2 separate regions of the Homo sapiens genome follow, and region 1 is linked to region 2. Evidence: fine-mapped expression QTL. A gene starts in region 2. The other region holds a variant in brackets. All regions are shown on one strand. Distances are from middle to middle. Region 1 overlaps MXI1 (MAX interactor 1, dimerization protein). Region 2 holds the start of MXI1 (MAX interactor 1, dimerization protein).

Evidence for each region. PIP is the estimated chance that this variant, and not a neighbour inherited with it, causes the effect.
Region 1: its variant is the best candidate, but not a certain one, in a credible set for the expression of MXI1 in atrial appendage (GTEx, PIP 0.72).

What each region holds. Positions count from the first base shown.
Region 1 is chr10:110,279,766-110,285,142 of GRCh38, reverse strand. MXI1 (MAX interactor 1, dimerization protein) reads right to left here. Exons shown (of 6, transcript NM_130439.3): 5 at 5,058-5,229; 6 at 1-319. The coding sequence ends at 156. Among named protein-coding and RNA genes, the nearest start is that of SMNDC1, 22 kb to the left of the region's middle. The variant G/A (reference allele first, on the strand shown) is at 2,450.
Region 2 is chr10:110,204,461-110,209,837 of GRCh38, reverse strand. It overlaps MXI1 (MAX interactor 1, dimerization protein), which reads right to left and starts at 2,233. Exons shown (of 6, transcript NM_130439.3): 1 at 1,756-2,233. The coding sequence starts at 2,029. RefSeq lists a silencer at 1,983-2,062 and an enhancer at 3,652-4,152.

The DNA of each region.
Region 1 (5,377 bases), 75 kb before region 2:
ATACAGGTCCTCTGACCCTTTTGTTCAAGTATAGTTTTGTTTTGTTTTGTTTTGTTTTAAAGAGGAGACTGCATCATGAACCCAATTTAAGAGATTGTTTGTATTGAATTGGCCCAGTGAATATTTTGCCCTGCACTGTTATGTCATGCTGGGTTCTATGAAGTGAATGAAAGTTTGACACTGGCACTGGAGTAACCCTCGTCACTCCCAATACTCGGCAGGCTGCTGTGGTCATCAATGTCACTGATGCTGGTGGTACTTATATTGTCCACTTCTCCATGGGAGAACTCTGTGCTTTCAACATCCACTTCAATCTCCTCTGCCAAAGGAAAAAAAAAAAAGAAGAACATTAATTATCGAGTATAGCGCACCTTCAAAAACTAACAGCATGAGGAAAAGAGGTATAAGAAATGTTACACAACAAGCTTATTATCAGTGATGTCTGGAGAACAGAGGAACAAGGTGAAGAGACAGGAATATTTTTTGCCAAGGGGAATGTCTGATATACAGTGGTGGTCTTAATTTAGGCAGCAAATTTCCTAAATCCTTTGACGCCAGTCCGTCTGGACCTCCCTAAAGCACTTGGCGTATTTGGGAATTAGTGCTTAATATTAAAAGGTCCCAACCCCCAAGTGGTTTAAAAACATCTGTTTTGCATTAAACCACAAACTAATTCTCAGTTCTGTTTATTAATCAGGGTTGCCTTAAAGGGTGGGCAGGAGCATAAACTTAATATAGGCAAACTAGAAAATTTACCCATCCAAGCCTTTGGTGGTGCCATTCTACAGATAGTTCAACAGACTTCTAGGATTCATCATAAAGATCTTCAACTAGTCAGTCAAACAAGTCATTATAAAGTAGAGTTTGAGGTATATGTCTTAGATTTAATTTTCTTGCATCAAATATAGCTTGAAATAAGGGCCTGAGACTTAAAAGTCTTCAGATTATAGTGAGATCCATTTTGGTGGTAGTATACAGACTTAAAAGCCAAACATTAAAAAAAAAAAACACCACAAATACATATTTGACTCAGCTATCAATAGATAATGTTGCTGGACGCAGTGGCTCACGTCCGTAATCCCAGCACTTTGGGAGGCTAAGGCAGGAAGATCACTTGAGTGCAGGAGTTTGAGACAAGCCTGGGTAACAAAGTGAGACCTCATTTCTACCAAAAAAAACACAACAACACAAAAATTAGCTGGGTATAGTGGGTGATCCAGTAGTCCCAGCTACTCGGGAGGCCAAGGTGGGAGGATCACTCTTGAGCCCAGGAGGTTGAGGCTGCAGTGTGCCAAGGTCTCACCACTGCACTTCAGCCTGTGTGACAGAGTGAGACCCTGTCTCTTAAAAATAAAAAAAAAAATCTTAATTGTTAAATACTAGATATTCAATCATCAATAATATACATAAATCAATACACATGTTAAAAACAAAAAGGAGTTAAAAAGTTGTTTTCTCCCATCAGAGCTAGAGTGAAACCCAGGATTTTTCAGTTACCTTACTTAAATTCAAAGCCTGATGTTTCACATTTGGCACTGACTTTTTAAGGGTTCACACTAATCACAACTGCTTTAAAAAAAAAAAAAAAGTGGATTCAGCCGGGTGCGGCCAAGCACTTTGGGAGGCTGAGGCAGGTGGATCACGAGGTCAGGAGTTCAAGACCAGCCTGACCAATATGGTGAAACCCCGTGTCTAGGCTAAAAATAGAAAAATTAGCTGGGCATGGTGGCACGCGCCTATAGTCCCAGCTACTTGGGAGGCTGACGCAGCAGAAACACTTGAACTTAGGAGGCAGAGGTTGCAGTGAGCCAAGATCACGCCACTGCACTCCAGCCTAGGCGACAGAGCGAGACACTCTCTCTCAAAAAAAAAAAAAAAGTGGATTCTTGTGAGGCCAAAAGGACAGGGTGAAGCTATTTCCAGGAATATACTTTTCAAAAGGGCTTGTTGCTTCAAAAGTTTTAGAGATTCTAGAGATGTTTTTAAAATGTAGGCAGCTGTCCAAATAATCTGTGAATTCATATATTGGCTCTATATCCGAATTGCTTCAGAAGCCATTGTTTCCCAGCACCACTGAACACTCATCCAACCTACAACTAGAAGATAATAACAAGGCACACTATCCAAAAGAGCATGCTGAACTCAGTCAAAATAAAGTAAAATGATGGCCAACACAGTGGCTCACACCTATAATCCCAGCACTTTGGGAAGCCAAGGCAGGAGGATTGCTTGAGCCCAGGAGTTTGAGACCACTTGGGCAACAAGGCCCATCTCTATTTTAATAAAATTTAAAAATATGTTTAAAAAAATTTTTTAAAAACCCAAAAAAACAAAGTAAAATGAGAAACTGCTTTAGCCAAGTGTACCACAGATGTTAACTAAAAGCCCCCATAACACTACAAAAAGGAGGTTGCCAGCTCAGGATAAGGATGGTACTTGGTAAGGTACC[G/A]CTAAAGTAAGGTACACTGGGAACACTAAAAAAAAATGAGAGCTATAGTGATGAAAATACACCCTCCTCTCTGAAATTTGGAGGTAGTTGGGGTGGGTACAAGGAGGAGGTAACAGGAAGGACAGCTAAAACCTAAAGACCTAAGAAGAGGTTTCCGCTAGTTAGCAATAGAGGAAAGACTGGGACACCAAGGTCAGGGTTATTTCTGCTATATTTCACTGTTACTGATAAATGTAGCATGTACTTCAGGTTCTTGCTACTGCCTCTGGTAGACTTTTCTTGAAAACTGCCACACAAAAATAAACTTTTACATAGAAAAATAACAAAACAGAAAAACAAGAACTCCTAGGGTTGTGTTAAAAAGGTTGCGTTAAAAAGGATGAAAAAACTATTTAAAAGGCTCCTACTCAGCAAATCTGGGACAGTTTGAGCATTCAAAAGAATTTAAAAGGATGACTGCAATGGATTGGAACACATTCAGTACAGCAAAACATGAGTTCATGATATAATCAAAAAATAGTAAAACCAAAACTTGTTACTTCTGGAAGCTGCTAGGTTACCAACTCTGTTTGGAAAACTGATAAAGCAAAAACCAAGACCAAGCATTTATCCCACCTTCCCTGTATGAACTTTATTTCAGGATAACCGAAAAGTTGATGAGAAAATGTTTATAGGAGAAAAACAGTTTATAAATACAAGAGGAATGACACAATTAGAAAATCACTATTTTATGACACCCAATGAAATAAGGGCAATAATTGCTAAAACTGTTAAGTTAAAGGCTATACATTTATATAAATGTATTAAAATGACCTTACCTGAACCTATTGATTAATATTAAAAGTGCAACAACAACTACACACAATACTGACATAACAGGAAGTACAAAGCACCACCTATGAAGTATTCTGCATCTACCAACCAGTTTACAGTCAATATAAAGGACATAACATGTTAAATGACACCATGAGGATTCAACCAGCCAAATCTAGGATGTAGGAAATTCTATAAGAAAAATGACTCAGTCTCTTGATGTTTAAAAAAATATGTACATATATACAACACACAGATCTATACCTATATATTCCTTCATGTTTTCTCTGCCAAAGAAGTCTTTTTGAGATGTTATGTAGAAATCAGTTTTTGTTTCTACCAAAACGGTGTAGGGGGAAGAGAAAAAATTATTATAGATTAATATCTTAAAAGGCACATCAAACAAATGCAATGTGGCCTTTGGATCCTGATTTAAACATACCAATGGTAAAATGCCATTTTTGAGACAACTGGAGAAAATGTATCACAGACTGGGTATTAGATGATATTAAAAAAGATTATCTGAATTAATTTTGTGGGGTATTATAATAGCATTATAATTACATTTTTAAAAATCCTATTTATTCAAGATACATACTAAAGTATTTAGGGGCAAAATGATGTTATCTGGGATTTGAGTTAAAGCATTCCAGAAAAAATATTGAGGGTGAGCGTAGTGAAGAACAGATGAAACAAGTTGACAGCTATTCAAACTGAATGGTGGGTATACAGGAGTTCATTATTCTATTCTAAGTATGTTTGAAAATTTCCACTTAAAAAAGTCAAAAACAAAAAACAAAATCAGAGTCCTAAAAACAAACAAACAAAAAAACTCTGTCACTTGTCTCATGTTTTAGAATCCTAAAGAGCTCATGAGCTCCTTTCTCCAAATGTAAGACTTCAAATCACCAGTGTTCACCTCTGGGATCTTTTAATGTGATATGAAGCCTGATGTGGTGGAAGCTTTGGGAAGAACAATCAGTAAAATTCAAACCATTCTTTTTTGGTTGACTTCTGTTCTTTAACTCTGTCAAAGATAAATATTCTAGGATAGATGGAAAGAGAAATAAAGGGTGTTGTACTTTAAAATCTACATATAAAAATTCACATCACCAGTAGTAAAAACTTCGACATCGTGTATCTTCCTGACACAATGGATTGAGAAAGGCACAACATCATTTCTTTTCTTTTTTTTTTTTTTGAGACGGAACCTCACTCTGTTGCCCAGGCTGGAGCGCAGTGGCATGATCTCGGCTCACTGCAAGCTCCGCCTCCCGGGTTCACGCCATTCTCCTGCCTCAGCCTCCCGAGTAGCTAGGACTACAGGCGCCTGCCACCACGCCCGTCTAATTTTTTGTATTTTTAGTAGAGACAGGATTTTACCATGTTAGCCAGGATGGCCTCGATCTCCTGACCTTGTGATCTGCCCGCCTTGGCCTCCCAGAGTGCTGGGATTACAGGCATGAGCCACCGGGCACAACATCATTTCTGTGATATTCCTTACCCCAACTGTATACCCTCAATCTAATCATTTGAAAACATCAGACAAACCTAAATTGAGGGACATTATATAATTTATAATATAAATATATAAATATATTTTTTTTCAAGGAAAAAACAAAAAGTTTTATAGTCCACACTGGCACTGCTGTAGACAATATTATGATTGCATAAAACCTACAATGTTACTCTGTTGGCTAGAAAGAAAGCAAATACAGTGCCTCCCAACATACCTTCCCTAAATCCAGATACAGAGATGTTTAGTATTTCATTAGAGAAGAGGCAAGCTGCCTACCTCGCTCTGAATCAGAACGATCTGAAGAAATAGTTGATCCAATGCTGTCCATTCGTATTCGTTCCATCTCCTGAGGACCCTGCAGCTGTTCCAGTCGCCACTTTAAAAATCTCTGTTCTCGTTCCAAATTCTCGAGCTGGTGCTGGCTTTTTCTTTCAGCTTCTTCAAGTTTCTGAAATGATGAAATGATTTTTACATTTGTGTATAGTCCAGTACAAACAATAAAACTGATTCCTCCTTTAGCAGAGAAAACATGAATGAATATACATGTGTGAGTGTGTATAAAAATATATAAATACATTTTAAAGCCTCCAAAATGA
Region 2 (5,377 bases):
TCCAGAGAACTGGTAGCCGGGGATGGGGGTAGCTGAAGAAATCGCGCCCCTCCCCCCTGCAACAAAAGCAAACACACCAAACAAAACCACGTCTTCACCCAGCTCCCCACCAGCTCTGGCTTTTCAGAAACTACCCTCCAGACAAATGCACACATAGCTTCCCGCGCCCCATCCCCCTCCGACCAGCATGAATAATTGCGAAGCGATTCGGCTGCACAGCCTGCGATGCGCCTTTCTCGCAACCCAGGCACTCCGGGAAAACAGGCGAGAAGAGAAAGAAAAGAACGCACCACCGACCTCACAACACAAATCCTCGTTTTGGCCTTACAGCGTCTGCACAATTGCGCTGCCAACACACGGTTCCTTTAACCCTGAAGACCTGGGGTATCAGTCAGCAATGGTGTTTTTGTGTCTGAGGGTTGTTGTGTTGGGTGGGGGGAAGGTTGCAAGATCTGACACGTTGCAATCGGGACCTTTCTTCTTTCTTTCTCTCTCTCTCACACACACACGCGCACACGTACACACACACACTCGCGCCTCATTGATCTTCCTACTTGTTCGGACACATTAAACATCCCGGTTTCCCCCTATCTGTCGGTCTGTCTGCCTAGTTCCCTTCCTCCTTTTCACAGCTATTATTCTGAGGACGGTGCTGGATACGCTGCACACGCGTGCCCCCGTTAGGGCGCTGAGTCGACTGCCTGGGGAAAGCTGGGTGACCTGGCTGGTAGGGGCAAAAATGAAACAAATAAATACAAAAAAGAAGCCAGGCCAGGGTGGGGTTCCCAGCACACCCCCACCCACGCACTACTATCCACGTGAATCTGGGGGTGGGCGGGTGGGGGGAGTAGAAATCGACCAGGAAGGCGTTTGCCTTGCTTGCCCTGTGCGCTCACTCAAGAGCCGTCTCCCGGAAAATAAAGAAAAAGCACAGAACAGCCCACACCTTCTTCCCCAACTATTGTTTCTCAAAGATCCCAAAGTTTCCTTCTAGCCGCGTCCCCACGGCCAAGTTTCCCGGGCTCAGGACGGCGTGTCCGGGGCGAGCTGCTGGCGTTGCTTGGCCCCGCCGGCCTCCTTCTTTGGGGGGGGGGGGGCGGCGGTGGCACCCCACGGCAACGGACGTGCAGGGGGACTGTGTCCGTAGACGTGATGGCCTGAGCCCAGTCCTGCTGCTAGAGGGAAGGAAAAAGGCGAAGTAGGAGGGAGAGAGAGAGACAGAGCCGAGCCCACGCCGTGGAGAGCTGTTTGGTTGTTATTGTTGTAGTGTGTGTCTGTGTGTTTTCTTTCTGGAACCTCTGAGCTCTGCCTATGGTTTCCAACTTTCGGCTTCTAATCCCCACCCCACCCAGGAACGAGCAACAGAAAAACAACACTTGTCTGCCTGAGAAGGCTCCGGAAAAAAAAAAAAAAAAAAGGAAGAAAAGCGACCTCAAAGAGATGAGCTCTCGGCTCAGTTGTCAGCAAACAACAACACTCCCCCGCTCCTCCGCTGGGCCATCCTCCCAGCCCCAGCCCGCCGGAGAGGACAGACCGACGCACCGACAGGCCCCTCTCCCCCTCGCCCGTCTTTGTTACATCTTTAGCAGCTTTGTGCGTGCGTGTCCTTTCTCCGGTGTCATCGGCTTTACTGCCAAGGGCTGGATGTGTATGTTGGGCGGGGGGGGGACGGGCCGAGCTCGCAACAGGGGTCGCCCAAGTGGGCGAGAAAGAAAGAACCGGGCGCCGAGGAAGAGCAGGGGCCCCCAAACTTACTTTTGTTTTCTTTCTCGATCTGCTCCAGGTAGCTGGCGGCCTCGAGCAGAATCTGCACGTTCTGCAGAAAAGTGTTGATGTGCTTCTCCATCGAGTTCTCGCTGGTGTTGAAAATGTCTGAGAAGGGGCACCTGGGCTTGGCCCCAGCGGGGTCCTCGGGCAGGGCCGGGGGCTGGGGCGCGGCCACGGCGGGGGGCACAGCCGGGGGCGCGGCGGGGGCCAGCCCCGCGCCCTCGCAGCGCGCCTCCTTGCGCGGCCGCCCGCGTTTGCCCATGGAGGAGCGGGGGTCCGCCGAGCTCGTCCTCTAACGGGGCTGCGCGGCCCGGCCGAGCTCCGGGCCCCCAGGGAGACCCGGCCGGCTGGAGCAGAGAAGGCGCCGGGGCGAAAAGCCGGCCTGACTTCCCGAGCCTCGCTGCCTGCAGTTGTGTGTGTGAGTGTATGGGAGTGTGTGTCGGTCTCGCTGTGAGTCTGTGTGTATGGGAGATTGAATGAACCTACAGGACAGACGGAGGCACTCTGGCGCCTGGGTCCTAGTGCGAGCCTGTCGCCATCGGACCGGTCAAAATAAAAGGTGGAGACTAGCGAGCGAGGCAGGGACCGCCCCTGCCCGTCCCCGCAGGCTTCCCTGCCTCTCCCCAAGGCTTACCACAGAGTAGAACACTGTCTTTTAACCGGAATGGAAAAAAATACCTGATGTCTCTGGGTGCACCTGCATAAAAACAAACTACTTTTTTCACAGAAAAATAATGCCTCAGAAAGTGTCCAGCACAATGCCTGGCACATAGTTAGGTCCCCATACATGGTGGCTGCTATGACTTAAAAATAAATAAATAAAAGCTCCCCAATCCAAATGGGAAGAAGGGAACCAGTGTGTAACCAGAAGATCCCCCCACCCCCAACACAAACACTCCTACTCACAGACACACATACATACGTAATCACGCACACACTTGCGAGGCACCTGTGTGTGCCTTCACACAGTCAAATGAAATCCCAGGCCGTCCAAATCCGAGTTACAGATTTACTCATGCCTTTCTCCCTTCAAATGCAAAGTTATTTTCCAGAAGTGGGAGGAGATGTCAGCATCCCTCTCCACACTCCTCTGCCCAGCCTTGGTTCAGCTGTGCAAAGCTCACACCAGGATGCCTCCACACCTGGCTCCCTTTAATTTGAGAGGCAGAAGTGGCAGCTCAGGAACCACCCCCCTCCCCAGCTGAATTCCACCTTTTGCCTCTGAAAACCCCTACCCCAGCTGACATTGTTTCACTGCCACTGCTGTCCGCAATCATGGATGCTTTCCAGCCCTGGGAAGTACTGGAGGTGTCAGGGGATGATTGAAGGCTGCTCTAGGGTGCCATAGGAAAGGGTTCAAATCCCAGCTCTGCTGCATACAGACTGTGTGAGCTTGGACAAGTCCCTTAACCTCTCTTGGCCTAAGTTTCCACATCATTGAAATGTGTGATAAGATGCTTGTGTATTGTATCTGACTTAGCACACTCTGGCCCATGGTAAGCTCTTTTTCTTCCAATCCAGACCCAGGCAAGAGCCTGAGTCCCCTATTCTGATGTAACTTGTATCTAAGAAAGGAACAAGATGTAGTGAACAAGACTCTTCTGCACTTCCTTGGAAAATATCTCTATGACAAGCCCATCTAAATATGGTTACTTTGCAAGGTCACCTGGAGTTTTCCTCCAGGGGAACCATTTATATAGAGGACAAAGACAATGCTGCCCCCTGGAGGTGTGCGATGCAGCCACCCTACTCAAAGGCAGCTTCATACACATTGTCATAAAAACTCTTGATGGCCGGACGCAGTGGCTCACGCCTGTAATCCCAGCACTTTGGGAGGCCAAAGCGGGCAGATCACCTGAGGTTGGGAGTTCGCGACCAGCCTGACCAACATAGAGAAACGCTGTCTCTACCAAAAATACAAAATTAGCCGGGCGTGGTGGCGCATGCCTGTAATCCCAGCTACTCCGGAGGCTGAGGCAGGAGAATGGCGTGAACCCGGGAGGCGGAGCTTGTAGTGAGCCGAGATAGCGCCACTGCACTCCAGCCTGGGCGACAGAGCCAGACTCCGTCTCAAAAAAAAAAAAAAAAAAAGTTTATCTTCCATTATTAGAACAATTACTGATTTTTTGCTTCTGTGAGAACCACAACCTGAGTTATTCGTGTTGAAATGCCTGTAAACATCTAAAAATGTTAGGAAGACCTCATGTATGCACAGTTTCAAACAAGCTTTCTCCAATGCCATTTTGCAAAAACTGGCCCTTGTGTGAAACAGCTCTGATCTCTCTTGCCCCAAATGAAAGATGGTACTGAGACAATGAACCAGCTAAGCCCAGAGAAAACCTTGCTTTCTCTTTAATTGCCCATTGGTGGCATGGGTCAGATGTATAGTACTGCAACATACATGCACCACCAAGACAGGCACACGCATGCATGAGTGCCATGGTGGGGGAAGGGTGTTTTGTAATTATTTATTTATCCCTGTTCCATCTCTCATAGGTCTGCGAGTTTCAGAAAGCCCAGTGGGAATCTTCAAGCTGGGCCACGGATCTGACCAAAGCCAAAATAAACAATGGCTTGAAGAAAATCTACAAAAAAGTGCTGATTTGCACTATTCCCACAGTCGGCCACAGCCCCCACCATCATTCCCATGGAAAACACCACGGCTGGTGCCAAATCAAGTTTTCCCCCCATCATAGGGGCATTGTTTTTTGTTATTATGTGAGTTCTTAGCATCAGACAATGGCACCACAAGAGACACAGTGGAAGCAGGAGAAATGCCTTTTTGTTTCACAAAGTCTGTGTTACTGTGCCCCCAGAGTCTCGCATATAGTTTAGTTGCATATATTCATTTTGGTAACACGTATGTGGAACGACGAATGTGCCAAGCTAAAGCCCGAAGCCCCCTCCTTATTTGTTTTCAGAGCCCATCAAGTGTTAAATCATATTAACATCCCATTGCTCTCTCCCTTCTCCCGCTCCGTTCCCCAATTAACAGATTTCTCTAATAAAGTTGGCCCCAACAGAAAGAGTGGTGTTTCAGGGGTTATATCACAGGACAGGCATCCAGGATGCTGGGTTACAAGCTCAGCTCCATTCCCGATTAGATTTGCTTCCCAGGAGGAGCCATTCAAACCCTTTGCAACCCCCCCTTTCTTTGGGGTTTTGATTCCAGAAGTAAACAGGCCCCTTTGGAAATGCTGAGAATTTCTGCATAGAACAGGTAGGGGATGTGAATACAGCCATTCTGATGAGAACACATGTGAACTCTTTGAAAGAAAAGCAGAAATGCCCAATGAAGTCAGCTAGAATGCTCTCAGAGGGCCCGGGATATCTTGGGTGCCCAGTCGGCCTGGGTCCTGCTTTCCCAACACTCTGTTCATTTGTTTGTTTGGCTTATTTGCTTGTTTGGCAATACCTTTCCATGGACCTTGTTTGTATATTAAAGCAAGATTGTTCTTTCTTTTATTTGCCCCTTTCCCCCCAGACGTTCTATACTCTTACATCAAAGGAGTTGTTTGGCCTATAATTATGTCTTTATGTACACAGAGGCTGGTTAATTACTGAGAAGGCGATGGATGCGTTGCCATCGAAACCTACCCACCTTGCATTG